Linked DNA regions of Homo sapiens: all the other regions are linked to region 1. Evidence: fine-mapped expression QTL. A gene starts in region 1. Each other region holds a variant in brackets. All regions are shown on one strand. Distances are between the middles of the regions. Region 1 holds the start of SGIP1 (SH3GL interacting endocytic adaptor 1). Region 2 overlaps SGIP1 (SH3GL interacting endocytic adaptor 1). Region 3 overlaps SGIP1 (SH3GL interacting endocytic adaptor 1).

The links. PIP is the estimated chance that this variant, and not a neighbour inherited with it, causes the effect.
Region 2: its variant is the best candidate, but not a certain one, in a credible set for the expression of SGIP1 in fibroblasts (GTEx, PIP 0.54).
Region 3: its variant is the best candidate, but not a certain one, in a credible set for the expression of SGIP1 in visceral fat (GTEx, PIP 0.63).

The regions. Positions count from the first base shown.
Region 1 is chr1:66,528,719-66,539,242 of GRCh38, forward strand. SGIP1 (SH3GL interacting endocytic adaptor 1) reads left to right here and starts at 5,435. Exons shown (of 25, transcript NM_032291.4): 1 at 5,435-5,650. The coding sequence starts at 5,641.
Region 2 is chr1:66,703,035-66,713,558 of GRCh38, forward strand. All of the region lies in intron 18 of SGIP1 (SH3GL interacting endocytic adaptor 1), which reads left to right. Among named protein-coding and RNA genes, the nearest start is that of DYNLT5, 44 kb to the right of the region's middle. The variant A/G (reference allele first, on the strand shown) is at 5,837.
Region 3 is chr1:66,645,184-66,655,707 of GRCh38, forward strand. The region is part of intron 7 of SGIP1 (SH3GL interacting endocytic adaptor 1); the gene reads left to right. Among named protein-coding and RNA genes, the nearest start is that of MIR3117, 22 kb to the left of the region's middle. RefSeq lists an enhancer at 3,952-4,121. The variant A/G (reference allele first, on the strand shown) is at 4,218.

The DNA.
Region 1 (10,524 bases):
TAATGAGAATGTTTTTATTACTTCCATGCACTCTTTCTGGCTCTCAGTATGCTCTTTTATCACAGCAATCTGCTCTTATTTATTGCTGCTGTATCTCTGAAATTATATCAAAACTAAAAAACAGATTTTTTGAAAAATGCCTCTCAAGTTCTCCACATTTCCTCTGCCTCGGTGGGGACATTTCCTATGCTTCAGTGAGCTGTAGTTATTTTCCTTCTCTTTTGAAACTGTTGAATTTTCTCATAGATTCAGTGTTACTGCTTATCTTTATCAATGTAGGTCTAGATTAAGCAGTACTCCCAGCTGATATAAATTCCTTCAGCACTCATGTAGCTATGAACACATGGCTCTTGGGATGCTCATAGTCCAATGGGTGAAAAGCATACAAGGGCATGTCTTGTCTTTGGCATAAGTGGGCCAGCACATAGAGTCTTCCCCCCAGGGAAACAGGAGCATGACTACAGGTTCTGCTGGTTTCTCTCTGGATACAATCATATTATGGGTTCTGTTTGCCATAGAAACTTGTGTGTATATATATATAGTATACACACACACACACACACACATATATATACACATATATATACACACATATATACACACATATATATACACATATATATATACACATATATATATACACATATATATACACACATATATATACACATATATATATATACACACACACACATACATAGGCACAGTAGTCAGCATATGACAGTCCAATGTAAGTTTTGGTTTAAAAAAAATCTATCATGAGAACTCATCAACATGGCCCCCAGTGACTGGTTTGAAAAGTGAACAATGATCCAAGCCAGGTCAACCACAGTCCTTCCCTGGAAGTTTTTTGAAGGAGATCTAGCCTAGTAAATCTGTGAAGAGGTGAGCTTAGAGGATGCTAATGGTCAGGCCTGATCATGTGGAGAAAAATTAGTAAGAGAAAAGGAGATGACATGCTGGAAGAGACAGAGAGAGTTCTGAGTACTTGGTTCAGGTAACAAAATTTCCTGGATTGTCCTGGTTCTTGCTTTCCCTCAGCTGTTCAGTTCTTGCTATAATTCTATGAGCTACCTCAATAAATTCCATTTTTGCCCATGTTAGTTGAAGTTGGAGTTCTTTTATTTCAGCCAGGAATAGAGTAACTATGGGAACCCACACACACACAAATATATGTATCTCTTTTTCATCTATATCATCTCATGGAATTCCAATTTTTCAGTCTTGCCAATTTCCAGGACTTGGGCAACATATTTTTCCATCTACATTCACTGAATTACCTCAGTGGGGATAGCAAAAGGGGCAGAGTCAATTGTCATGTTAAGAGCACTACCTTGGAGATACACAAACACATACACAAATCTGGATCCATATTTTAATGCTAATTTTCTTTCCTCCTTTCTTTGTGACTCAATTCTCATTGTCTTCTTTCTCTTTCTAAAATATAAACAAATTTCCCCTTCAACCTAAAATTGGGAGATAGTGAAGAAGCTCAGCTTTTATAGTAGGAATATAATAAGATTTCATTCTGAAACACTATGTAATCAGCCATTACTACCATACAAATGTTATTTTAGAAAAAATGTTGAATGTCTAGTGACTTCAGCAATTTAGTTTTTGGTCTTGGACCAGTCATAAGTACCATATCAGAGCCTGGTATGATCTGGGTTGACATTCACATCCTGAGCTGAACTCCTGAGCAATTCTTGCACTTTGATGCAAGTCAGTTATTTACCCAATCTTTTCCATATACCATTTGACTTTCATTTCAGAATTGCAAAAAGTATTCCATGGTTTTGGAGGCTAGATATTCTCCTTTGCCCTTGCTGGCAAGCAAAAATTATACGATGAAGTGATAAAATTTGAACCACAACCTAAAGTATTGTCTTTGTTCTTGATCAAAACAATTTTTTTTTCAAAAACCTATGAGAGGCCAGGCATGGTGACCCACACCTGTAATCCCAGCACTTTGGGAGGCCGAGGCTAGTGGATCACTTGAGGTCGGGAGACCGAGACCAGCCTGGCCAACATGGTGAAACCCCTTTCTACTAAAAAAAAAAAAAAAAAATCAGGTGGACATGGTGGGGCATGACTGTAATCCCAGCTACTCAGTTGGCTGAGGCAGGAGAATAGCTTGAACCCAGGAGGTGGAGGCTGTAATGAGCCAAGATCTCACCACTGCACTACAGCCTGGGCAACAGAGTGAGACTGTCTCAAAAAAAAAAAAAAAAAAAAAAAAAAAGAAGAAGAAGAAAATAAAAAGAAAAAAACCTATGAGAAAACACCACAATTAGGATAATCTCTTTTGATTACATATTTGAGCAAATTTTATTGAAACAGAACTTCATTCATTGGATGTTCTATTGGATATGCTATTGGTAATAGCATCTTCTTTTTAAAGGATAAAATACACACAACTGATGAAGTTGCGGTGAAGTTTAGCCTTTGGGATTAGCTTTACCACCTTGAAATACACATCCCTTTCTGACAATATCTACAAACTTCTGCTTTTCCTATAAATAGTCATTGACCAAAAGAATCTTTCCATTGACTTGCTGTCTCTAGATAGTTGCTGCAAGTCTAAAAAAACTTGAAGTGTACCCATACCAAACCTATCTGAGAGGATTGCTCTAACACACTGTAAAACTTACATTGGGAGGAAGAAGGCAGGCAGCCTGGGTTTCTCCACCTTTCCCTTACATCCTAACAATGGCCCCCACTCCTGCACCTCAGTGCTTGCACTCACCTCCAGATTTTACATGATACTTTTTTCTTACTTACAACTCCCTATATTCTTTAGAACTACCACTTCAAGCCCATTCCAATTAAGTTCTGAACTCTGAAATTTCACCTCTGTAAAAAAAAAAAAAAAGTCTTTCCTAATTAACCTCATTAGATTTTGATTTCCTACTTAGCAGCCTTTCAGAAATCTCCAACATGTTACATCTTTGGATGCATCACCTGGTCTTTCACTAACTTGTTCTCTGTGCATTTGGTACAACTCCCAGTTGGCTGCAAACTTCTTTGATGCATCTGCCAGCCCTTTGGTAGTAATAATACTAATACTAAAAAGCTAACATGCAGGTCTTATTATGCTCCAGACAAAATGCTAAGTAATTTACTAGCAGAGTATTTGAATACTGTCTGGCACATAGTAAGCCATTAATACAGGTTTGTTATTATTACCATTTATAGCTCAATTAACTTGGCATTATTATTCTCTCCATTTCAGGATAAGAAAACTGTGAGGCACAGAGAATTACATAAATTGCTCAGAGTCACAGAGCTCATTATGTGGCACAAACAAAACTTGGTGCCCATCTATTTGACACGAATACCCATCAATGTTCTTAATCATTACAAAACATTTGCTAAACACACACACACATGCACACACACACACACAAATCAATCCTTTTTGCAATAATACCCCTCCAGTTTTCAGAGCAGTGTAAGTTGTACTCAAGGCAGGTTTTACTTAGGAATTCATTCCCCTTTTAAAATTTAACTGTCTTAGAGACATAAGAAAAAAGTCACAAGTATTTGTATCTCCCTGAAGAATTTCATTTTAAAATTTAGAGGCCACTGAAGTATGTGTCCTTAGGGAGAACAATGGGTTTTTCAAAACTTCTAAATTGCTAAGGAGCTGTGTTTTGCTTTTCAACTATTAATATGCTACTTCAGTCAGTCACCAGTACGTCATATTTGCTTTGGTAGAAAGAGCTAGGCCATGTCCAGGGCTGAGCAATAGAAAAAGTTCATGAGTATATTGCTAATAGAAATGATTAATAATACATTACAGGCTCAACCCTGATCATACCATGCATCTTCTTCCAGTTATTTTGAGTACATTTTCATTGGATGCTCACAATTGCTCTCTATTGTAACAGCTTTTCTCCTGGTCATACTGTGAGATTATACAGGGAGAAATGCCCACTTCTGATGTTGTTTTTCCTGAGTTCTAAAGAAGGCGTTCCCTTTCCTCCCATCTCCTTTCCTTTTTCTCTGCCTTCTCTCTCTCATAGGCTGCCCTGCCCTTTTCTTCCTTCGCTGTCTGAGCTTTCTTGAAGGGAACCAAGGGTCGTAGATCCCCCAGGGCTGGGCCCTTCTGAAAGGCTCCATGGTCTCTGGAGAGCAGTCAGGTGACAGACTGAACCCAACCGGGCCCAGTGACACAACTTCCCACTTAGGCAACTACACAGCCCCCAGATCCCATTCCTGGCAGCTTCAAAACCCTGGGCTCCGCCACAACCAGGCACAACTGCCTCCCTCCAGGTTTCCACTTGGGTGAATGAATAGGCTTGAAGGCGACTCCAGATGCAGGAGGCGCGTCGCGGAGAAACGTGTCATTTAGGAGAAAGTTTGTTTCCTACAGAGACTGCAGTTGGCAGCTGCAGCCCCAGTCGGTTGCGAGAAAAGCTCCCCACCTGGGGAAGCGAGGCCGCTCCCGTGTGCGCTCGGCGGGGAGGACGCGGTGGCGGCGGGACTCGAACTCGGTCGTCGAAGGGCGCCCCGCAGGGTCCCGTCTGTAGCCCGGACGGCGAGCCCAGGTTGGAGTGGGAGGGAGCCGGCGTGCACAGCTGTCTTTGGTCGGGCTCAGGCTTCCGCTCCCTGCCTGCTCCCCTTTCCAGCCTCCCGCCCCAGAAACGATCTCGAGCGTTGCCAGTTTGATTCCAGAGCCCCACTCGGGTGGGTTCTTTTGTTTCTTTGTTTTAATGACAGTTCCCAGCCCTTCAGCATGTCATGCGCAATTAATTCCCTGGCTCTCACGAAGGCAGCTGGGGTGAAATTTCTTCTGCATCATCCTTTTGGGGATGTTTATGATGTGACGTCAGTCGGATTGATTTTTCTCTCTTGAATGAAGGATGGGAGGGGAGAAAGAGAGACGGAGAGAGAGAGAGACGCACAGATGTGCACGGAGGCCACAGACACTGACATTTGGAATTCCTTCAGGGTAAAAGGACACCGGAATGGGAGCTTAGAAGTGTGTTGCTAAGATTTCCGGCTGCACGGAATTATTAAGTTTTTCTTAAAAAAACAAAAAAAGAAAGAAAGAAAGAAAAAGAAAAGAACCCCCTCCGCAGCGAGCCACTTAGGTGCTGCTTTCACGCCAGAGTCCCCTGTTAAGGTGGCAGCCCTTGATAACTAATCTCGGGCACCCAGCCGCTTCTGTAAGCTTAAGGAGACGACGAGGAGGGGCGGGGGAAGTGCGTCACCAGGTGGGGAAGGGGCTGTGTATTTGGTGACAAGCGGGAGGCGATGGGGGTGGAGGGGAATGGGGACGGGAAATAGGTTCTGTGTGCTCTCCGGGGGTATTGTGTCAGGAGATGCAGGCTGGCTACCATGTGACGCGGTCCAAAGCTGAAGGGATTGGCCGAGGCAGCGCAGGCGGTGCAGCTCGGCCAGCTTGCCGTTCCTCTCCCTTTCTCTCAGCATCTTCTTGGTAGCCTGCCTGTAGGTGAAGAAGCACCAGCAGCATCCATGGCCTGTCTTTTGGCTTAACACTTATCTCCTTTGGCTTTGACAGCGGACGGAATAGACCTCAGCAGCGGCGTGGTGAGGACTTAGCTGGGACCTGGAATCGTATCCTCCTGTGTTTTTTCAGACTCCTTGGAAATTAAGGAATGCAATTCTGCCACCATGATGGAAGGTAGGATGCTTTCTGCTATGGTTGACTGGCTTCAGGCAAGGTTTGGGCAGAACAGCATTAAAGAATATGTGCAGCCAGTGTATGTGGCGGTTCTAGAACCTGGTTGCCAATGTTTTGCAAGCAGAAATGCTGCAGTTTGCTTGCAGTGGATCTGGGCTCAGACTAATGGAATCAAACCACAGGGCTGCTGCCTAGCTCAGAACCTACAGAGCTCCCAGCTCCTTTGAGAGAGAAAAGCCTAAAGTGTTTGCAGGGAGCTGAGATGGAGCTAGGAAAGAGCTTGCAGAGCAAATAAGTTGGGCGAGAAGATAAGGTTTTCTGTTCTGGGTTCCTGGGACTACACTGATTAAACATTTACAATGGAAACTTGTTTTCTGAAATTGACATTAGACAGGAGAGGTCATTAACAGAGTTATCCATACAGACATTTTCAGTGAACTGTTTAAAATTGTAAAAATTCTCATAAGGTATTTTTATCTCTGCAGTTTACATCATATTATTGGGATGGGGAGGGCAGCAAATTTGGTCCATAAACTGTAGTTGTATGAGAATGTCATTGCAACAGAATGAAAAATATAAGGAAAATATCCGGGCCTCTTGCCTCCTGATTCGGGGTCTTATCAGGTTAAAAAAGAATTTTGTGCTCCCTAAATGCTTTCCCTGTCCAATGGATTTTAGCCAAGTATCAAATGATTATTTGCTGATGATCTTTTCGCATATTCAATATTGAGTGTAAGGAGGAACTTTCCCTGGAGAGATGCTATTTAAACTATATTTTATTCTGCTAAATTACCCTTCCCAGTCTGACACTGTGACAGCCAAGATTGTCTCCAAAAAGCAGCAAGCTGATCAGGAAAGAAGCAAGCAGCTCTATGCAGGCTTTGATTTTCTGTTTTCACACTATAGGATGGTGCAAAACTCCTGGCCTTTCCTAAGATGACAGGCAGAAATTTGTCCCCAGCCTGGATTTCACAATGCAGAATTGAGTGCATAATGGGTCTCAAATCAGCCATGAAAATGGCAGAGAGGCCACCTCTTAAGCCAAGGTTTGTCCTACGGATTTTAACTATTCCTTAGAAATTTACCAAAATGGAATAAGAGGAGGAAGGTTTCATAAAAACAGCAGTGTAGCCTGTACTTATTTGGCAGAAATGAATTCTTTTTGCTCTCCCTGTCATCATGTCAAACATTGTTAATGTGATTTGGGGGAGTGAAGAATTCTAGAGTCAAAACCCACAGATTTTAGAAGATAGCCTTAAAAGAGAGGTTGGGTATGATTTTGTTATGGAGCTGAGTCTTGTTTGCAAAAGGCTCTCAAGCTAGCCCTTTAAATCCAGGCCTAAATAAATTGAGATTGCTAACACTCTCAGATTAAATCATTTTCATTAATTCAAAATTGATTTAATCTTTGAATAACAAGGCAAGACAGAGTGTTATTTATGCACTTTTCAATTAAAAGCTCATGTGGATTATCTTCTTCAGAAAAAATATCTTGCCTGTAGAGGTACTGTATTTCTCCAGCTCAACTTCATATAGCTTTCTTAAAAATGCATCTGCACACATTCTGATTAGATTTCAGTGTTGCATAGAGAATTGGATGCTCTTTCTTTTCACTTCTTGCCTTGCAAACCATGGCACTAAAGTATCTTCTTTGAAGGTTGTAACGTTTTTTGATGCTCATGAATGATTCTCCTGGTAATATGGTCTATTGTGCCATCCAAGAATGTCAGTTCAAAGCTCTGTGATAAGCTTATCCAGGCTGCCTAAACCAAAATGAGAACTGCAACAAAGACTTGTGCTGGAGCTGAATTAGCACTATTGCTCTGGGTTTGCCAAATTTATCTAATGAACAATGTTATCTTAGCACTGGTATGAATTAGTATGAATTATACTATGGATACAGTTGTCTTTCACCAGATCTTTTGCAAGAGAAATTGGACAGGTGTTCCCACTGGCTTAAATAGCTAAATGAAATTAACATTTATTTCTACCCATAGCTCCTACTTAAATGTTTTTAAGCCTTATTATCTTAATAGTTCGGTGACCTTAGAAAGGCAAATAGGAGTTTAACCAAAAATCAATTTGCTATCAGTTGCCTTCCAACTTAGTTGACAGTCTTTTTGGCAATATACATTCATGTTTCTGGTATTGCATGGCAGAATTTCACCTCTGAATTGCTCTTATTCTGAAGGTGTGGTATATAATTATTATTTCAACTTAACTCATCTCTAGAGATTGCCAGCCTCTGTACATCTACCACAATAACCTTGGAAAGATAAGGAACCTCATAAAAGGCACCCCAAATTTGTCATGGCAGCTCTTCGTTGAAACATTAGTGGACTCTGAGAATGTGCTACCAAACATCTAGTTAAAATCATATTTCTTCTGAACTAGTGTGTCTCACACACACACAGAGTCATCCACCCAAACACATTTCTGGAAAGGAAGAAAACATATATTTGCACTCGTGTGGCTGTACATTTCTATATTGCTAAAGTGTTTTAGTCTGCTGCTCAGAAAAAGCATGGCCATGGCAACTTTTCAAAGGCACTTCTCTACTTTGTGTAAAGCAAGAGTAAACAAATATTCAGCAGAATGGGTCATAGTAAACTACGTTTTGTTTGTGTGGAACAGGATATAGGCTCCATTCATTCAATGCCTATTGGAAATCCATCCAATCATAGATGATAAATGTTACTACCTCCTCAGTGATCCTAATTTTGTGGAAGTCAACGAAATAATTCCCCAGGGACCACAAGCAGGTGATTAGTGGTTTGTGGCTCCATGGTTCTTTTAACATATTTTAATTAAAAAACATATTTTAGGGGACTTGATTTGCTGCTTCCTGCATACTTTATCTTTTGGCAGTGGTTGGCATTGAGTTGTTTCTTTTCTAAAGAAAGCCACATGATCTGGAGCCTTCTGTAGTATAAATATGAAAGGAAAGATGATGAGCAAAGGGAATTATTAACTATGGAGTGTACATATTGGCTAAGCTTACAATGAAGTCTATGTGGTTAGGGCAACTATTCAAGGACTATTTTTTGATATATTATTATTAAAGTTTGAAAATGGCATTCTTTAGCTATCCTTTCTAAGATAACTGGAACTAAGTCAGAGTTTCTTGGGCTATCTGTCTATTTGTGAGGGTGTCTAGAAAGTACTTTCCTTGTTCACGTAGGCCCAACTGAAGGCGTTTTGCGTTTTTAGTTCCATATTCAGGCTCTTAGGTGCTATACTAGAAAGATAAGTTTCTGGGTGCCAATGGTTTCATTTTATATGACAATTTAAAAAATTAACAAGCAAATATTTTTAAGGGCTTACTGGGTTTAATTACAATATTCAGGATAATTTAATATATTTTATTATATTTACTACTCATAATAACCTGAAACTAAGTATATTGTATATACGGTGCTTTTTTCAGTCCTTTTCTACCTTTCAAAAGTAAAAATAATGCATTGAGGCAAAAAAATGGTGGAGTGAAATTTGAACCTACATCCATTTAACCACAAAGCTCATGTTTTTGACCCTCTAGGAACCTCTTAGTTTTGCTTTGCATCAGGTTGGGCATGTTAACCTAATTGAAAAATAGGCTGTAGTGCCTTTGGTTGCATATTCTGTGTCTCTCTGTTTTAAATATGAATATTGACAGAACTATACTCTTTAACTTCTTATTAATGCCTTTTATGTCCAAAATCATTATTTAAAAAATTTTGCATAATTGAAGAGTAACTAAACTTCTGTTGTTGCAATAAACCTTATAAACACTAAGAACTTCTTCTTTTCCTATCTAGAAACAGAGTTTTACTAAAATAACATTTGGAAAATTCTTTGGTTTGGTCAGAAAAGAGCAAGACATCTTGAAGCTGGAGCTGTTCATTTTGTATTTAGTTAAGAAGTTTTAAAGGGAATGCTTCTAATTTTCCTACTGATTCTCTTCTTTAAATGATGAAATTACTTTAGAAAATCTAAACATGCAGATAGAAGATTCCAATATATGTTCCATCACCTGTGTAATTTCTCATCTTCTCCAGTGTTCTGTATCATAAAGAACCTCTTTAGATATATATGTTCCCATCCAAATGTCAGGGGTCATCTTTATACTTCTAAAAAGAATATGGAGTCTTTAAAAAATTAAATTAGATAAACCATACTAGAAGACTCTGGATCATTCTTTCTGTTGGATGTAGCACATACACTATCCATGTTTCAAATAAACAAGGTACAGGAAGTTACCAACTCACAATTTTTATGTTCCTGAAAGTTTGTTTGTGAGCTGGTTACTTGGAACATGTTTTCCCATAGGAATAATGATACAAATAATAGAGTCTCACACAAGTCCATCAAAGGCTATTAACCCAATATCTAGCTAACATGCAAATATTTGCCATAAAATGTGTAAAGAACAGTATGGTTCCCATAGTAATCAAATAGAAGAAAATTATGGCATTAAATGTGTTTTTAATTTTGGATGTTGCTGTTTGAAGGAAAGAAGCTTTAATTGGAGGACAATGAAGAGCTGGAGAAAAAATTAGAAGGTATTTTCAGAATACCATCAAATACTTTAGGTATTTTCAGAAGTTTTAGATACTCATGACACTGGATTTTTCAATTATGTTCAATTTTACCCTCATACTTGTGGCTTATCTTTTCTCAATTCAATTTTATCATACAAACTGCTTTTAAATTATGAGTAAAGTCATGATGTAAACTCACAGACTGAATTAAAAGTGGGAGAGAGAATTTGCTGAGATAATTCTAAAGGAGTTGGAAGAGAGAAAAATGATAAGGGATTATTATGAATTTGGGCTCATGTGTCTGAGTAAGTCCCATTTGGAGAAATTAACTGAATAAGAAAGAGGTCATAGGTA
Region 2 (10,524 bases), 170 kb after region 1:
CATAAGTTAAATAGTTCCCTGGAGCAGGAAAATGAGTAACAGAATAGAAAAGTTAAAGAATATTCACTCATTTATTTTTGCATTCAGTGCTTCACAACCAGTCCATGAGCTCTTCTAGCTACAAGCCCTTGTGCTGGAATTATGGAGGTGAAATAATAAAACTCCTGCCTTCCAGTAATTCACAAGAAATAGAAGAATAGAAGAAAGAGAAGAGTTCGGCACTTCCTATGCAAAGCATCCTGTAGCAAAGGCAATGGTAGAATTGCAAAAATGTTCTAGTAGGGTGATGGAAGAAACGGGAGCAACATTTATACCTACATAGACTCTACCCTGAAGCAATATAACATGTTGCTATGTTAGAGTCTAATAGAAAATCTTAGGTGATATGTAAATGTTAACCTAAGGTATGCTTGGTATTATCCTAGTATTAGAAAGATTCCTCAATTAATGCATATCCATTTGCTCTCAGTACACATATACATACATATGCACACACACACACACACACATATAGAGATAATAGAGAAAAAGATATGGAATATATATATCATATATATGATATGATATGTATCACACATATATTCTATATCATATGTGTGATATGTTGACATACTGATATAGCATACATACTATATATTGTATATCAGCTATATCACATTTATATATGATCTATATCATATATATTATATATGATCATAACCTACAGTATGATATATATCATAGGTTTTCATATATGATATATAATGTTTTTGTATATGATATATATGAAATATGGAATATGAATGATATATGGCATATCATAGATATTTCATATCACATATATAAAGAGAAAAAGAACTCTGTGTGTGTGTGTGTGTGTGTGTATGCGTTTATGCATGAGCTCTGGAATAAGCCTTCTAGATCTTAGTTATAACCTCAGCACAATGTGTGACTTTAGGCAGGTTACCTAACCTAAGACTTAGTTTCCTCCTCTGAAAACTGGAATAATAATGGCAGCTCTTTCACAGGGCTGTGGTCAAGATTAAAGTCAAACACTTAGTATAGTGCATGCAAAGCACTCAAATATAAGCAACTGTTGTCCAACTTCATGCATCCTCTGCTTGTAACATGGCTGTGTTTTACTTAGTTCTTGCCTGCTTTGGAGAAGTTTCAGTTGTGGCATTCTTGTCTTCTTCCACATAAAAATCTGACAATTTGATTCTGCTGAGAGTTGCTACATGGTCTCCCTTCCTTGTCAGCAGGGATGATAAGCAGTGTTTTCTCTGCTGGTACGGAGCAAGACAATGATTTGGAAGCATCATGCCACTGCGTTGCTGTACACCCTTTGCCTCTACCAGAGCCCATTATTAAAGCTGACTTGTTGAGACTAATGGTCTGCCTGCCAGTGTACTCCTGGGGGTTCTGTGTCAACACTGATGGGAGATGTGGCAGAAAATCTTTTATCCTCTCTTTTATTAAAGGATTTGTAAATCATAGCATTTCTGCCAATTTGACATATAATTTCAAACTTCCTGAGAAAAGAATGGAGAAGCTGAGAATTCCAGGGGGAAACTGCTTCATCTTTGGATGGTTCTGAGCCTTCAACATGCAATCGCTGGCTGATGACCTCTATAGCGTTTGTTTCTATTATGTCTTTTGAGAAGAGCTGTCCACAGACTTTGGCTGCCTACCCTATTTCAAAATACTGTTCTTATTAACCTCTGACATAAATGAATGAAGAAAGTATACTAGTGATTCAAAGAGATTTTATTAAGACTCAGGAGAATCTCCCACTTATAATCCTTTTTATGTGTCTGCTGTGGATATATTTAATCAGCACCACATATACTCCAAACAAATTTTAGACAATTACTTGTGAAAGGCTTTTGCAAACTATAAAGTACTATTCAAAAGTAATCATTTCCTAAGATAATAGTTAGTATTAATGAATATTTAATATGTGCTAGACATGTGCTAAGAATTTTATATTAATTGCTTCATTTATTAAATCAAAGATTGGCTGAGAGACATTAACATAAGGCATTAACATAAGTCACTGTCCTTAAGATTTGAACCTTTTTATGTCTTCAACTATTCTGCACTGTGTGTGTAATCATTTCTGCTACAGCGTGGACTGTCAGCAGACAAAAAAATTTCATGGACTTTGTGTTCTCTTCTGCTGACTTTGCCGTACCAAGTCACCAGGACACAAGTAAATATGGCCTTGGGGCTTCTTTTCTTGCTGACGCATATTCACACAGGCAGCGTGTGCTGTGTGTGTTTACAACTGTGTTTCTTAGTCTTCTATTCAGAGTAATAACAGCATGACTTCCCCTAAGATCTGATTCAGAGAATTGAAATATGCCCTGAGAAAACATAAGAGGTTTTTCTGGAGAAGTGTCCCAAGGGTAATATTAATTGTTCAAGGATGTTTCGGAAAAGTTGCAATCATCACTGTGGCAAATGAATCTAGGGAGAGGAAGCATGAGTTATTTAATGTCAGTTACTCCTTTCCTTAGGTTTTTGCCTTTTTTTGGACTTTACACACAGCCCATTTGCTATGAAACTAGCAGCTCAAATAGCAGGCTTTCAGGCAGGCAAACAATGGCAGACTGCATTCTTCCTACTTCTCCAATCATATTTATCAGTCCCATTGGGAGAATAACTTTCAGTAGTGCTCAAAATTACCAGCATCCAATTTGTAACTGCAAGGAACCATTCAAGAAATAAACACTTCAAGAAAAGAAATAAACCATTCAAGGAAAGAACACTTATGGGTTCTCACTCATAAGTAGGAGTTGAACAATGAGAACACATGGACACAGGGAGGGGAACAACACACACTGGGGCCTGTCGGGAGTTGGGAGGCAAGGAGAGGGAGAGCATTAGAACAAATACCTAATGCATGTGGGGCTTAAAAACTGGGTGACGGGTTGACGGGTGCAGCAAACCACCATGGCACATGTTTACCTATGTAACAAACCTACACATTCTGTACATGTATCCCGGAACTTAGAGTAAAATTTAAAAATAAATAAATAAATAACAAAATGTTTCTGAATTCCAGTTATATTAAAACAAAAACAAAACAAAACAAAAAAACTTCTTCATTACTTTGGTTCACAATTTATTTCTTTTTAATGAATTACTGTTTTTGGTAAAATCTGAAATGTTTTTGTTATAATTTGCTTCTTGCTATCAAACCATTTATTTTAATTTGGTCACTCATCTTTATTACCTTTATCTCACATTTTCATCAAATATTTTTAATTTTGAATATATTTTATATTATACATAAAATATAAACTATATATTATATAATATGTAAAATATAAATAAATATTTATACTATAAAATATATTTATATATTTATAATATAAAATAGTTATATATAAAATAAATATATATGATATAATTTATATAGAGATACACATTTATATATAATATAAATTATAAATATTTTAATAAATATTTATGACAGTTGATATTTTAATCTAAATATTATCTTTTCTCTTTAATAAATAAATGTAAAGATGACAAAAGAAAAAAGAAAAAGGAAAAATGTAGAAATCTCAATATTTAAAATTCCAAAGTAATTATCAATATGTACTTATATTTTTTCCTCAGTATGAAAGTAACACATACACATTATAGAAAACTTGGAAAAACAGAAAGGTATTTTTAAAAAGATCTATAATCAAATAGCTGTAGATGACCACTATTATCATTTTGATGTTTTTCAGTTCTGAGATTTTGCATGTGAATGTGAGTCTGCGTGTGTGCATGTATAGTTTATATTATCACACAGTGTATAATTATGCATCCTTTTATTTTAACATACGCTAATATTCCCTTTGACACTTCAAAGTATTTACAAATAGCTCACAGTTGGCTTTATTGTGATCATGACATTAATTTAAGCATATTATTACTTTTAAAAATTCAAATATGGGAAAGTATAAATAAAAGAGTAAATATCACCCCAAAATCACACTATTCAGAGAGTAGTAGAAATAACATTTTTGATGTTTTGGTGAAAATTCTTGATGAAACCCTGTCTGCATGTATCTACACACACACGCATGGGCACACATACACACACAAATATGTGTGCTGCATTTACTTGATCCCAAGAAGCCATACACTGGGTTATGCTCCATTGTTTTCACAACTTTTTGGGCACGAAATAAACTTTGTCAAGTGTAGAAAAGCATTTTTTTTTCTAACCAATAATAATAGACAAAGTGCTGGCCACTATCTTCAGTATAACCATCAGAAACTGAGCCTAAATCTATTTCATATTCAGAATCTGCAGACACATCTGAATCACTTCTGGCCATCAGCAGTTACAATTAATATCATAGTGGCATGATGATTTTTCTATACCACATATTTATAACCTTGACCTCTTTATACTCTTTGCATTGATAGTTTAATTTTGTGACACATCAAAAATTCCAGAATTTTATCTGCATTAGCTTTCCAGAATTTACTTATAAATTATTGCAAAGTAAATAATTTCCTTGAAAGTCAACAAGAAATTTTTGACAGATACAGTTATAGCACCTGAGTGTTCCTTTAGGATGCATGTCAGTCATAACCTACTTGTTTCATCTTTCAAAATTCTGTATCTTAGATTCCAAAGAATGTGACAGTTTCTCCCACCAGCAGTTGCATAGTCTGGTAGATGACTGTTAATTTTCCAAGAGAGTTGATGAGTTGTCCAGGGGCATTCACATCTTTGGCCCTTTTAAGCCTGTAGATTAGTGCTTCTCAAACTTTTTTTTCATTATCCCTCTTTCCTTGCCCAGAGAGCCTCTGTTAGACCTTGTTTTTCCCTAATTGCTCCCCAAGTCGAATTCTAATATCATAGAGGTACTGTACATCTGGTCATGTGCTATATGTATATTTGTGTGCTTTATATATTTAACAAGTAAGATTTCTTTCACCTTCCCCAAAGAACCAATTTTTATCCCCTTTGGGGTGATACTTCTGCTTTGAGAATGCATGCCATGCCTGCAGCTAGATCTCGGATCACAACTTCCTAGGATGTAGGGGCAAACATCTTTAACACAGGGTAGGGTTTAAGAATACAATGGAAGTTAGACCTGGTTTTCAGTCCCAGCTCCCCTACTTACTATAGAGCAAATTACCTTGAGCAAGTTATTTAATTTCACTAAGGTTTAATTTAAAAGAGTGTACCTCAGAGAGATGTTTTGAGATTAGAAGACATGAGGCATGTAATGTGTTTAGCACAGCGGCCATCGTATACAAGTGCTTTACATAAATTAGCTTTTGATATATTTATTCATATTCTTCATAGTGCCATGCTATAGCTGCCTGTTTCCAATGCTTGATCAAACTCTCACCACTGTCTATGTGAAAGTGTTTAAAATTTGGCTGTATGAGTCTTCATACTAAGACAAAGAAAATCCTAAGTTTTTAGACTGAGGAAATCAATTTGAGCAAGTGTACATTCACTTTTCTTTCATTTGTATTATGACTTTGTCTTCTGTCTTATGTTCATATTTAACAATAGTATTTTTGTTGAATACATGTGTTCTGACTTGGATAATAAAAAGCAAGTATAATATTCTCATCTTCTGAGTCAAACATTTTAGGAAGTTAATTCAATTGGGCATTAATTTTGGATGACAGTTTAGGTGCTCTAGGCAAAGACCCAGGTTGAAGAAAAATTCTCTACAAAACATGAAGAAAAATGTCAATTGATTGTATGTTCCTGGACTGAGCAGAATTTGAAAAGCAAAAAAAATATATATGCACATGACATACATATATAACCAGGGCAAGTGAGCAGAGACTTATGAAGAGGAAGACTGGAAATAACTCTAATCCT[A/G]TTTACATACTCAGAAATCCAGTACTCTCAGTTCTACGCTATGAGAACTGACTTTCTTATTTATTTATGTATTTATTTTGGGCATCCATGCATGTTTATCAATCATTCGAATTTTTTTTTCTGTTTGTTTTTGTTTGTTTTGTTTTCTTTACTGTTATACTTTAAGTTCTGGGATACATGCGCAGAGTTCTGGGATACATGCGCAGAACGTGCATGTTTGTTACATAGGTATACATGTGCCATGGTGGTTTGCTGTACCCATCAACCCATCATCTACATTAGGTATTTCTTGTAATGTTATCCCTCCCCCAGCCCCCCACCCCCGACAGGCCCCAGTGTGTGATGTTCCCCTGCCTGTGTCCATGTGTTCTCATTGGAGAACTGACTTTCTTAAGTACACTTTCCTCATTTTCATGAAGGAGAACATGTAGCACTCTGAAAAGCATGTAGCAAGGATAACTCACCCAGTGCTACCATGGGTAAGGACGAGGCCTATGGGGCTCTTATATGGAAAAGTGTGGAGTCAAGTGAATCTAGATTTGAATTCTGACTCCACCATTTACTGGCTGCAAAAACATGGGTAAACGGTTCTCTCCTCTCAGACTCAGTTTCTTGATCTATAATATGTAGTAATGCCTATCTGGACACATGGTTGTAGTCATAATTAAATGATGCATTATGTGTAAAGCATAAAAGACAGTACCTAGCTCATAGCAAGTACTCAATAATATTGTTCCTCCCCTTTTGAGGTTTGCCCTTTTTCCTCTGTATTCTCACTCAGCAGGTCAATTGGTGCTACTTACCTCAGGACAGGAGAAGCCAAGGCAGCACTTAACAGAAGCTTCTTGACTTTTTTAAGCTTCAGTTTGTCAGCTGTAAAATGGGGATAACAATACATCTTTCTTAAAAGTGTGAGGATTTAATAAGGGAATGCATGTGGAACACTTAGCACAGTCCCCAGAATTCAGAAAGTATATGTTCTTTTAGTTCTCATCGTAGCATTATTATTAATTAGATTAGGTGATAGTATAAGACTATCAAAACACTCAAGAAAACATTACATAGAGATACATTTTTATATGCAGCATGCACACACACAATTTACACACATATAAGATATATTTTATATAATATTTTATATAATCTAAGCCAACTACAATCATAATATTCCAAGATTTAGAGAAAAGGGAAAAAATTAAAAATTTATATGTAGTAACTTTATTTTGACTTCTTTTCTCCCAAACCTATTCTAAACATTTTTGAAAAGTTTTTGCTATCATAAAAAGTAACTTTATTAATCATCACTTCAGCTAAGATTCACAATGTCACAGGAGCACACTTACCTTTTCAAGTTAAGCTCTCATGATACAGTTCTTTCTACTGAACTATATAGAAAGAATTTCTACATTTCTTTTTATTATTTCCTCATTTACTAAATGCATCTGGTGCTGAGGAGAGCCTGAAACTGTATGTTACATGACACGACTGTAAGGCAAATTCTTCTTCACTGCTAATGATAATGGCTGCCAAGTTATCGAGTTTTTACTGTGTGTCAGGTACTGTAATTTACATAAACTAATGAAACTCTTTGTCCCAGTGTTCACTATTGGTCACCTTGCAGTTACTGGATTCTGAAGACAAGCAGAGACCACAGCAACATGAAAGTATTTACTTATAACCTTAGTCCTCATTCTGATACACTTTTTCCCAAATTAACACTAGTGTCCATCCCCACCCATTACATGAATGCAGAACCCAATAAATTTTCCCATAAACATCTGGTCATATAAACAATGGATATACCATGCAAATACAGTGCATATTTATTGCAAGTGAAATTGCCAGTCTTAGGAAGGATATAGGATTCCATGAAGTCAGTGAAACTGATGATGTAAAGCTTTTCATCACACCTAAAGTCATTGTCAGTTTAGAATTTAACAGAAATTAAAATTATTAATTACTAAAGAAGAGGGAAAAACATAAGCTTACATCAGAGCCACTTCAAAAGAAAGACAAGAAACTAAGAGACCCTCGGAATAATGTATAAAACTCTCAATTAATTCTGCAATAATGGCTCCATTTATGATCTTGAATCAAAGCCAAACCTAAATCTTGGGTGGTGTGTAAAGCTATTAACATAATTTTATCAGAAAAATATACCCTTCCCAAAAATATCAACACAAACTATTTTTATTCATTCCAAGAACTCAATTATTAATGTAGCTTAAACTTTGTTAATAAAATATCCTTTCACAACTTTAGTTTATGACAGCTTAGAATCTTAATCAAACCCTTCTATCATTATGTACTATGAAATTTTAGTATCCATTTAAAGTACCTTAATTGTTAAATGATTTCTCTGTTATTGACTATCCTCAAATAACAAGAACATAGAACATCCTATATCATCATATTTAATCCTCCCAATGTCTGTAAAAGGTACTATCTTCATTATACAACATGATGAAGCTGAAACTCAGAGAGGTCAGATAATTTTTCAGGGTCACAGGGTAAGGGTAAAACCCAGATTCAAAATTAATTCAATCTCTTTCCAACATTCTTTCCCTTTGTCACTGCATTATGTATAACATATTCTATAAATTACTGTAGAATTGGGTCTCATTTATCTTTTCCTAATTCTAACTAATATAATCAGCTTTTAAAGAAAAAGCTAGTCTAATTTTCACTCTTTGCTGCTTCATACATCTTCTGGAGCGTCGTCTGTCTTCTATGCACTCTGAGACTTTCTGATGTCTCCATCTGTTGGTTATATCCCTGCATTGTCATCCCTGGGCATAAGGGTCATTTGCCTCCTGCCTGCAGCAGATCTGGTAGGGTGGGCAGTTGTTTGGCCTGATAGCCTGCAAAATGGGGACAGTCTTTAAACAAATCAGACCACTCTCTCCTGCTGCCCATGCTTCAGATTGTGTTTTCAGGGTGACTGTTTCCAACCTCAGATGAAGAGAAGGTAAAATATGCAGTTCTTATGGCATCTGGCATTAGTGGTGCAGATCCTTCCTTGGATAAGATTGAGAGCACTGGTATTATTGTCCTAATTTAGCAGAGGTGAAGCTAGAATCATTGACCAGCTCAGGTCAAATATTGAAGAAGCACAGTCAAGACTGAAGCCTACACCCTCTGACACCCTCCTAGACTCCTTATTGCAGATTTTTGTTATCTGAATTTAAGCAGGTTACTTAAGCACTCTAGCTTTCCCCATCTGTAAGAAAGAGACGTTTAAAATAGCACTTACTTGGTGAGATGGTGGTGCAAATTAAGGGAGATAACACATGTGAATCATTGCACAGAATTTGAACACATTACATAATAGATACTACCATTTATTGTTAATTTTGTGACAAATGCCACAACACCCCTGAGGGAGCCACTAGTTTGACATAAATTCACATTAAATGTAAAAACCACTGAAAATACGTTGTCTTCATGAGCTGGCTTTGATGACAGAAAGTGCTAAACTTCAACATTGCAAAGTGGAAGAGATTATACGGAAAATGGAGAAAGTGCACAGGAAGGGGAGACTGGCCTGCCCGAACGCAGGCTTGCTCACTGCACATGATTGGCGGAAGTGCATAGGAGGCAACCTGATTAAACTCAGGAGGTAAACACTCCTTTATTTATAAAGGAAACCTTCTTATACTTGTATTCAATTTCTGTACCTGTGCATTTTGCTTTTTTTCTCTTTCCTCTTTTTTTTCTAATTTTTTCTTTCTCTTCTAAAAAGTCTCTTTCTCTTCTTTAAACACTTACATATACAGTCTGTTCTCCTTCCCCACGTTCATTTTTCATTTGTCTTCCCATGAAATGCTTTCATAAATTAAGGACCTCATCTTTTAAAGATGTCAGATGTCATACTTCTGTTAAGAATTTAAATTATTTTTAGTCTCAGGCTGTCTACATGTGTACATCTGTGTGACCTTGCTTGGTAATGAGAGTCACAGAAAACCGCCTTTCAGAAAACACACAGTCACACACTGGTGACTCTCTGTGCCCTCTTCCATTCCTCAGAACCCCCTCAAAGTGTGCATGTCAATTGCTTCCCAGTACTCTGGAGATGCTTTTTTGTCGGAGGTCCACAGACTAATGGCAGCAACTCATCCTTCTAGGGGGTATCACAAACACGTTATCAGGTTCCTAAGATAACTCTCTCCTGACTTCTATGCTCCTTGAGCAAGGTAGGGAGGAGGGTGGCATCCAGAGTCAGTCAGTGCTTGGTTTGCATCACAGTTCTGTTTTGATTGTTTACTTGCCAGGTGACAATGGCAAGGCTATTGAATTTCTTGAAACCTCCATTTTCTCATCTGTAAAACAAGGGCAAGAATGCTACTTACCTTATAGCACTCATAAACTTACCTTATTACCAGGATTAATAATTAATATAAGTAAAGTCCTTTGAATAGTGGTTGGTATGCAGTAAGAGATAGAAATTTTCATTGCTACTACAATTACCATTAAGAGAGCCAGAAAATCTAGGATTGAATTTCAGCTTCACCACTTACCAGCAGAGTTACTTTGGGCTAGAGATAATGATACCTAACCTGTGTACACTCCAGTGTACAAAGAACATAAAGCCATATTAGTGTTTGATTTTTGTTGTTATTGAAGGACAGACATAAAATCCATGTCAATAAATACTGCCTCCATTGAATTCTTTGTAAATTATTATTAAC
Region 3 (10,524 bases), 120 kb after region 1:
GGCAAGTTCAGAGGATTAAGTGAACACATTTATGTGAAAGCAAATGTACCGGCACAGTCCCAGAAACATAGTGGATGTTTGCCGGAATGTAGCTGAATCCAGGAAGGAAGAGATTCCCTCTTTTGAATGGAATATGTATGCCTAAGTTTTCTGGTAGCTATTCCTCCAACCAGATACATTGCTAAGGATGCAGCAAAATGTGGTGGTTTACTCTAAGCTCTTCTCAACATCTATTTTTAAGGAAATATATTGACATGATGTGGTTAAGATTCTGATGAAAAAATGTTAAGGGAAGCAGAGTGAAAACTAGATGGAGACACCCAGAGAGAGTGACCTCGGAGTTACTCTGTTTCTGCAAACCAACAACGCCACAGACCAAGGGACCCTCAGCTCCCATTCCTGCACCCACACCTCCAGTTTGTTCCCTGTAATGTGAGAACCTGGATCTCCTATTTTTGTGATTCCTAAATATTTATAATTTTTCATAGTTGGTGTGGAAGAGTGAGCTGTTACTACTTTAGGAAAAGGTGAGCAGGTTTCTGGATGTACATGAGTTTAAAGAGAGGTTGTAACTGAAAACATATTCTTGGCTTTAGAATCTTTGCCCTCTCCTTGATAACCCGTGTGTAAATATAGATAGATATAGATATAGATAGTTTTGTTGTTGTTGTTGTTTAGACAGAGTCTTGCTCCGTTGCTCAGGCTGGAGTGCAATGGTATGATGTCGGCTGACTGCAACCTCCACCTCACGGGTTCAAGTGAGTCTCTTGCCTCAGCCTCCCAAGTAGCTGGGATTACAGGCACGTGCCACCATGCCTGGCTACTTTTGGTATTTTCAGTAGAGACAGTGTTTCACCACATTGGCCAGGCTGGTCTCGAATTGCTGACCTCAGGTGATTCGTCCGCCTTAGCTTCCCAAAGTGCTGGGATTACAGGTGTGAGCCACCGCACCCAGCCATGTACATATATTTTATAAATGACATATGCAGCACTTCCTCTCCAGAGCCAGATAAGCAGAAATAACCTAAAATCCAGCTGGTGCCATGATCAAAATGACAATGATTTTGGACTTTCATGTCTCCAGCCAAAAGAGCAGACAATTATACATCTATACTTTCTTCAGGCACTAAAAAGGAAATAGGGTCTACACAAGTTAATGATATATCAGAATATTTTATTTAAACTATGGTTTTTATACTACAAAAGCATCAATCATTACATTAATAGAAATGAGGAAATTTCAAATAATAAATTATTCATAACAATGGTTTACGTTGGACTTCTGATTTATGTTTCTTTTGAAGTTTTTAAGATAAAGTCGTGCCTCACTTATTCTTTTCATTTATTTGTTAATATGTATCCATGAACTATAACCAATTTGATCTCTTTTATCATGAATTGGTTTTATTATACTTGAATAGTTTCGCTATATATATTGGGCGGTCAAATTAACGAATGAAATGAAATGGGAGGAATGAATGAATCATATAATTATATGTATATACAATATAAACTTATCTGAAATTTACTTCTCAAGACAAAGTGTCAGAAGCAAGACAAATCAAGATTTTAATTGCTGGCAACAATCCTATTGTACAGTTAGACAAATAAACAAAATTTTAGTCCAGATTTTGCCTTAGCCCTTGATTTTGATATAGAAATAAAATATAATGTTGGCCAGGACAAGGCAGAGCACCAAAAAGGCAGAAGGCTAATGCAGGAGTTAACTCACAGGTAAAGGATAATAATTCTTTTTCTTATCATGTTCCAGCCTGCTGATAAGATACCAAGCTTACAGGGCAAAGAATGAACATCACCCAGGTTTGCCATCTGGTCAGGTTGATTTGGCATCTGTGTAAGTTAGAATATTTGTTAAGCTGTTTTAACAGAGACCAAAATAATAATGGCTTAAACAATATAGGTGGTTTCTTTCTCTCCCAAGTGAAAGTCAAAGCTGATAGACAGTCCAGAGGTAAAAGAGTCTTACTCCAGTGGTCATTCAGAAACCCAGGAATTTTCTGCATTATTGCTTCTCGTTTCCTAGAGTAGCACTGCTGCCTTACCACTGCAAGTACTTCCATGCACCAGCCTTGGGATGGAGGAAAGAATAAATAAAAAGCAAGTGGTTTTCTTTAAGAGTTTAACTCAGAAGTTGCGCGCATCACTACCACCCAGATCCCACTGCCACAATTTAATCACATGGACACATTCACTGCAAGGGAGTCTGGAAAATGTAGTGTTTTGCTAGATAAACATGTAGTAGCCAGCTAACATTCGGGGTTTTATTACTAAAAGACAAAAGAACAAATGGCTATTGGTGGACTTTGACAGTTTCTTCCACTGGGTCCTGAATTATATTGTATCTGCATCTTAAGGTTAGAATTAAGTAATCTCAGATTATTTCAGAGAGTTCATTAGGAAACGGGATTTCTTCCCATATATGTTTTAAAATATTCCCAGTACCTATTAAATCCAGAATGTTCTAAAATAATTTTCTAATCACTAATTTATAAATACTAGTGATACCGTGCTGCTTGTTAGCTAACAACAGGTTGAACAGAGACACTCCAGTGTCCCTCTGTTTATGCAGGTTCACTGTTTTTTAAGGCAGGCTGTTCCATTGCTGAAAGAAAAGTCTTCCTTTTATTAAACCAAATATGTAATTTTGTCCTTGATTGTAGTTGTACTCTTTAAAGGATGAACAAATGGTAAAGCCCCTTCTTTTACCAGTGAGTTTTCAATGAAGCAGAATGACTCCAACTCCAAGTTCAGTGTGCAAGATGTTTTTTAAGGAGTGACCTTGGACTTAATACCTGTGATGTGGGGTGGGCAGAGGGAGAAGTTGAGCTGCTTTACACAACGAACAACAGCCTGAGCTGATCCCAGGGAAACTCAGGAACTAGTAGGAGCCTTCAGAGTTAGTGTGAGTTTGGCTAAGATGAATAACCTTGATACTGCTCAACCAGTCAGTGCTCTGATGTGGGCCACACTAGGAAGGGGCATGCCCTTGGGTTAGGTAGCTCTCTGCAGTTGAGGCAGATCCTGAGGTGCTGACAGTTGAAGGCTGCCAATAGCCCTCCCAGCAACTGGTGCAAGGAAACCTTCTGAAGAAGATTCTGCATGGTGCATTTTGGTGTCCATCCCAAATTCTCTGTTCTTGACATAAGGCCTAGTGTGTCATTGCCATTCAATTAATGCTTGCAAGTGAGTGAGTGAGTGAGTGAACAAATACATGAATGGAACCAGGCTAAGGACACAGAACCATGGCATGTCACCACCCTCCAGTTTTACAACCATCCACTGATAACACCCTTCAGCCTCCTTTGTTCACCACACAATGATTCTCCTAACTGTGCCCTAATCCTGGGCACATATTTTCATTCTTTTTTTCCAGAACAACACTGCGTTTGAGAGACCTGGGGTGTCTATGGCATTGCCTAGACCTACCAGGCCAGAAACCCTATCAGAGAGAGTGATAGGTTCAGTTTGCCCTGTTTCTTTGCGCTGGCACCTAGGGTTATCACCTTCTTTTCCAAGTGCTTTCTGGCTATCTGTTTAAATATTTTGTTCTAGAATTTTGGGTTAATCACAAGCCAGTGTGTAGTAACAGAAGGCACATATCACATAGATTCAGATTGTCCTGGGCCCCAGCCCAGGTCGACCACTTTCTACCTGTGTAACCTTAGACAAGCCCCATAACTGTTCTGATCCTCCATTTCTGCCACTGTAAAGGAAGGATGATAAGAATCCTTAAGGACTTTTTGTGCAGAAGATCCTAATAACAGTACATGATGTGTAATTGGTACTCTGCAATTGTTCATTTCTTCATTACTTAACCTAGATTCTTTTAAAAAAACCACTTCTCCTTTTTTGAGGGTCATGCTCTGCTTCCCCATGTTCAGCCTTCTGACCTAACAGCATACTGTGTTTTCATGTCCTGGGTTAAAATGTATCTACATCTCGAGGCTAGAATTCTGTTAAAGCAGCTTGGAATTCTCTTGCCTGTCTCAGACTTTAATTCTGAGCCAAATCTGATCTGCCTTTTAGAGGAACTACTTTTAAGTTAGTTTTCTCCATCTTGGACAATTATGGTTGATTTCTCTTTAAACACAAACAGAAACTTTGTACATACCCCCTGAAGGAACTGAGGTACAGTGGGAAAAGTGCCAGCCCTGACCTCAGCCTCTTGCTAGCAGTACTGCTTAGGTAAGGTACTT[A/G]AACCTCAGTGAGAGTCTCAGTTTCTTTCTGTCTGAAATGGGACAAACAAACAGCTACCTTACAGGGTGGTTGTTGCCATGGTCATCTCTTTCTGCTAGTGCAGTGTAAAGACCACTCTCCCTAAAGGAGGAGATAGAGACAGATGCAACACGAACAGTTCTGTGGTTTGCTTGCCTTTACACCACACTCTTTACATTTAGGGTAGAAGCAAACCTCCATTATATCATACAAGAAAAGGCTTTGTTCTTAAAGAGTAAAATAATTTTTGAAGGAGGCTAAATAAAATAATCAGTGCAGGAATTAATTATAAGGAAATATGACTTCACACACACACATGCACACACACAAAAAAAATAACCAAAGTCAGAATTCAACATACAATTGAATTGAATTGAATACAATTCCCTTTAAGATAATTTGAGGGAAAAAGAAATGACACTTACTCCAATGATGTCCCAATTACTCAAACAAGAGGGTTCTACCTCCTTTTAGTTGATGACTTTTGGTATGTTGAAAACCCAGTGCCTTGGTTTCTTCATCTATTAATGGGGTGACTCCCATACCTACTTCATTGGGCTATTTTGAGGGTTGAATGATTTAATGTATGTAAAGTACTCCTAATAGAAGCTACATGTAAAGATTGTCTCATTGCTATAGAGCCTAGGGCACATTTTAAAGAATATCATTAATAGTGATAAATAACTCAAATTTCCAAAAGTAATTTAGAGCCAAGACCAGTAATTAATTACCCATTAATTACCCAAAGCATCAAACTGGGAAAAGGTGTTTTTTGTGATGCCTTTTGAAGACAATTCCAGAAGGAAGTATCCCTAAATTGTTTTGAGTACCATCAACATCCCCTGAATACATATGGTACTTCTTCGGGAGACTTATTGAAGGCTAACATTCACAATGGCACACTTCATTGTGCATCATGGATAATTGACTTTATTTCTAACTCCCCCTTCAAATCATTTCACAAAATATATGTTGAGCACCTTCCATGTAGCAGGCACTGAGAGCTAATACCAGAAATACTGAACAGTCTGAGAAAACAACATCTAGTAGCAACCAGAAGCTGAAATTTTTCTTGTGGTTCAAACGCTTGCCTGTCTTCACTTCAGTTTCCTGATTGGTTTTCTGCAGCCCACATTCCCCCTGGCCTCCATTTCTAGGTCTCCTGGCTTGCTCACCCTTCCTAGGGTCTCAGATACGGACATCTCCATTCCTTCCAAATCCCACACGGAGCACTGTCTGACACATCTGCACCATGTGCTGTGCTCAGCAGGTACCTTAAAACCTGTGGCTCCCATGGCTTTTGTGGGAGTGAGAAGACAAATGCTATGGTTTAATCTTTGATGTGATCTTTTCCTTTTATAATGTGCTCCCATGGATTCCTTTATTTTTGTTTTTCAGAGAGCCAATAATCCCTTCTGGCTTACCTTGAGAAGGTGTCTTTTAACTACAAGCATTTTGTTCCTTACTGATTAAGATACTGTGCTCTGGAGTAAGTCAGAACTAAGTTTGCATTCTGACTTTCCGTTTATTATCCATGTAGCCCTGAGCAAATTGCTTAACTCTTTAAGCCTCAGTCAAGGCTTAATCGAGTGTAAAATAAGGTTAATAATACTGCCCACTTCATAGGATATTTGTAAGAATTAAGGAATGCATATAAGGTGCTTAGTACTTTGTAAGTAAATTTATGTAAGGTCTAAAAGAGGTGCTTAGTAAATGATAGCTATTATTAATCAGGATAACAATAAAATATCAAAGTCATCCTTTAAGCTCATTGATGACTTTGAGAACTTATCATGGTGATGAATTTGGTAGTGGCAGCTGTGAACACGAGTGCTGTGTGTCACATACATTAATTCATTCATGCTCCCAACAACCTGTGAGATCAGTACTATTGATATCCCCACTTTACAGATGAGAAAGTTGAGACATTGAGGGATTTATTATCTCACTCGAAGCATCACAGCTAGTAACTGAAGTTGCTGGGATTTAAACTCAGAAAGTTCTGTTTCTAATTGAGAACTCTTAACCACTATATTACACTAGTTTTGATGAAAGCCATTGACTCTCTTTCTAGAAAAAAAAGTTCACTAGCTCATTCAAAATATTTTACATACAATTTCTGAATGCTCACATGAAATAAACTCTTTGAAGGATATCGATGGATGCTCAAAGGGCCCATAATCCCAGCCCAAAGGGCCCACCTCACAGACTTTCTCCCCACTGAGTTCATCCACATCCACCCATAGAAGACCATCCAGTCTTCTATGGTACAGCACTTCCTATATTGTACCACATGACAGGAGAGCGAGGCTGAGTTGACACCTTGCCAGGTCAGGCTTAAATGCTGTTGTGTGATATGTGATTTCTCATTTATTAAAATTATCTTATTATATATGCAGATTGTTTGCACTTTTGTTTTAAATGTTAAGGAATGATGTCCATTTTATATGGCTCATTTATTTCAGTTCCCCTAATCAGTTAATCAATTGGCAAGCACTTTTTATGTCAATGGCATATTATAATAATGCTATGTTTTATAAATGCCCAGTCATGATCAAAAGGATGAAATGAGTAGCAGCACTATTAAGCAATCTGGGAGGTAGTGATGCCCCTATTTTACGGAGAAACCAGCACAGAAAGATCAAGAGACAAGGATAAATAGAATGAACACAGGCTTTTGAGTATATATCTTATTATCTGTGTGGTCATAGGCGAGTTCCTCAACTCGGAGCTTCAGATCTCATGGCTGTAAAATGGGAAAAAAATTGTGTCTACCTTCTTATGACATGAGAAAATATTGTAAAATACCCAGTTCAGTGCTGTCTCCCAGAAAAGGTGCCATTAAATATCAATCACCTTCTCAGCTTTGCTTTCCTTTTCCTTAAGTTCAGAGACTTGTAGGAGGCAGAAGGAAAATAAAAATAGCGAGGGAGGACTTGAGCAAACTCACAAGGGCTGAGAGAAATGATGTGAGAGCAGGAGCTGACCTACCCTGGCGTGTAGGCTAGTGCCTTCTCCCTTCCTCTGGAAAGTAAGTGGTACAGTGAAGTAAAGAATCTGACATTGAGTCATGAAGGAACAATTAGTTTAATCTTCATCCTGGAGATTTGCAATGCATAACTTTTTAACCAAAAAAATATGAGGAGGGGGAAATAGCTTTGAACTGGAGACAGTCTGGTGTTGTTTGCCTGTTCCATGTGGCCCACCCACCCTTCCACCCCCAAATTAGCCTGCCAGAGAGCAAAATTCATGAATTTGCCGCTGCTTGGTAACACCACCCCCTTTCCTGTCCTCACTTCAGCAGAAGGTTCAGCACCCCATTGAGTTCAGTGAAAACAAAGAGTCATCAGTGGAGGAGGTGAGCTCCAGTCTCCTACACACCAGCATTCTCTCCTGGTAGAAGCAGTGCACAGTGCAAGGAGAGGCTAAAGATTGCATGCATTCTGATGCAAGGCACTCAGCCCAGACCTCTTATTTAGTAAATTAGAAGGCAGAGGTTCAGCTTGAGTTCTACTCATCAAGGAAAGCTTCGTAGGGCAAATGTGATTTGTATTGGTCTATACCAGGGATATCAAACATGGGGCATATAAACTGCCACTCCATCCCCAAATCTTCCACAGACATTGCCACTAAATCCCAGACATGGGCTTAGAAGCCAGCCCCCTCTAGACAGACCTGCAGGCAGCTGGACAAAAATCAGCTAGAGTTAACACATGAGACGCAACTTTTGTTTTTCCCAGGACTCATAGAGGATAGATGGGAAAATAGGTGGAAATTTTCTTTTTCAAAATATATTTTTTTCTTCTCAACATTTTAATAAACCATGGACTGTGTGCAGAAAATTAGTTTTGTATCTGATACATGCTTTTTCTTTCCTTCATTACTGATTTTTTTTTCCCTAGGAAATTTTCTGTTGCTTCCATTTCCTGACATTTAAAATCCACACCTTTCATGCCCACCTTACTCTGGTAAAAAGAAATCCCTGAGCTGTATGAATATTTAGTATTCAACCTGGAGTGCCTTTGTCATGATTTCTCCAATTAATGTTGGTTGTACCTTCTCAGTAGATGGTATTTTGCTCTCTTCCTGAAATGTAAGGGTTAGATTTTTCTTGCATAAACACAATTCCTACATCATTTTATACTGTCTGGGCAAGCTGACCTGATTTGAGGGTTCTGGAAACATGATCACCATGGTTGGAGATCACAAACACTCAATTTCTGTAACAAAATCAAAATTTCATTGAATAAGGCTGTGTACTCACAATATTGACACATTGTATAAAATGTTAGGATGGCCTCAGTAGAAGTAGCAAATTATTGAATTACATGTTTTTTATTATAATGTTAATTGCAATCAAAAAACGCTAACTTTTATACCTTTAAGGTCTGCCTTGATGTTAAATGTTAGTAGCATTTAGAATTTAAAACTATTTTGATTAGCTAAGGGCCATAGTCAGGGTAGAATGTGCTCTGTAAAGAAGCAACCAATTTTGAAAGTAAGTTTTTTACAGAAGCCTACTTTGTGAACAGTTTACTGAATGTTGGGTTTCTAACAACAAATCTTGCACCCAGAGCTTGTAGGTTGTCTACTTTTTCTCTAAGGAGGCATTTTCTCTAGGGCCCACAGCAGTGAATGACACATAGTAGGTACTTAGAAAATAATTGTTGATTGTCTGGGTGGATGGATGCACCACGGGACATTATATAAAATGTATGCCGTATCTAGCTCTGCTATAATGCAACTTACATTACTTGCATTATTTTACAAATAGAGCAAATTTATGGTCTCAGTTGCTTTGATCTTTTCCTCTTCAACTTAACCAAGTTTCTTTTTTCACTACTTGATGGGTGAACAATAAGATCAATAATTTCCTGTTTCTTCCTCTACAATGTGTAGGTTCTTTAAAAAAGTTTGTTAATGTGTTCTTTTCTGTGGGTCCTAGTGCACATCCAGTGAGATTGTTTTCTCATCTAAAGCCTGAGGTTTTCAGTCATTTAGTTGTCTTCAACCTTGAGGGTCACTTTATCAATGATTATCTTTCTTGTACAATTATACTTATTTTTTTACTAAGGAGTTTCTACAAATATGTGAATAATAGTATAAATAAGCATAACAGTATAAGAAAAAAAAAATCTATCCCTTTGCCCTCTGAAGGAGATTTTGTTTTAGTGGCAGCAGTCTACAGCAGTAAATGTACTTTTTATTGTTTTAGAAAAAAAAATCTTACAGTGTGAATCACTCATATTAATTATGTCAAAAAATTTTTCCTCAAAGACTGGGGAGAATGTCCTTTCTAAACAGAATGAAGGTGATATTTCCTTCTGACTTATGTCTGTCTAAAGGACAGCCTCTAACTGCCCATGGACCTTGGAGCTGTAGCTTGAAATAGCAGCCAGCACAGAAGAGGTGCAGAGCTGTGCCTGCCAGCCAAGCTGCCTGTCCCAATGTGGGCAACAGAGACAGAGGGCAGATGGACTGGCCTCAGTGTGTTTTGCCCAACTGAAACTCCTTTCCACTTTGTAACCTATTTGAAGCCCATCTTTATTTCATTATTTTTTAAACACAGCACAGGGAGAATCAAAATGAGTTTCCAAAGAGGAATGACAAATGACAGCACATATCATAACCAGGTATTTTCTGATATTTTTTCATCCATGCCTCTTCTCAACACCAACAGTTACTAAATGTCCACACCTCAGAACTCCTGATAAGTAACAGCAATAAGCCGCATTGGAGCAGAGTAAAGCCAAAATCTTCACGGTGGTCTTCAAGAGCCTCATTGTCAAGATTCCCCCATCCCTAGACTAACGCCTGCCATTCTTCCCTCTCCTTCCACTACTCCCTGGCTCCCTGGGAGCCCTCTTCCCCTAGATAGCTGTATTGTGACCTCCCTCAACAACTTCATCTGTTTGCTCAGTCACTTTCTCAAGGAAGCCTACCCTGCCCACCTTATATAAAATCGCAAAACCCTTTGCCCTGGAATTCCTGAACCCCTTTATTTGCTCTACTTTTTAAAATTGCATTTGCCGTCTTCTAAAATACTAAATACTTTCCTTATTTAATTATTACACAGCCGTGTGTTGCTTAATTGTTGTTAGGCAATTTTATCATTGTGTGCACAACACAGAGTGCACTTACACAAACCTAGATGGTATAGCCTACCACACACCTAGGCTGCATGGTATAGCCTATTGCTCTTAGGCTACAAATATGTATAGCATGTTACTATGTTGAATACCATAGGCAAATGTAACACAACGGTATCTGTGTATCCAAACATAGAAA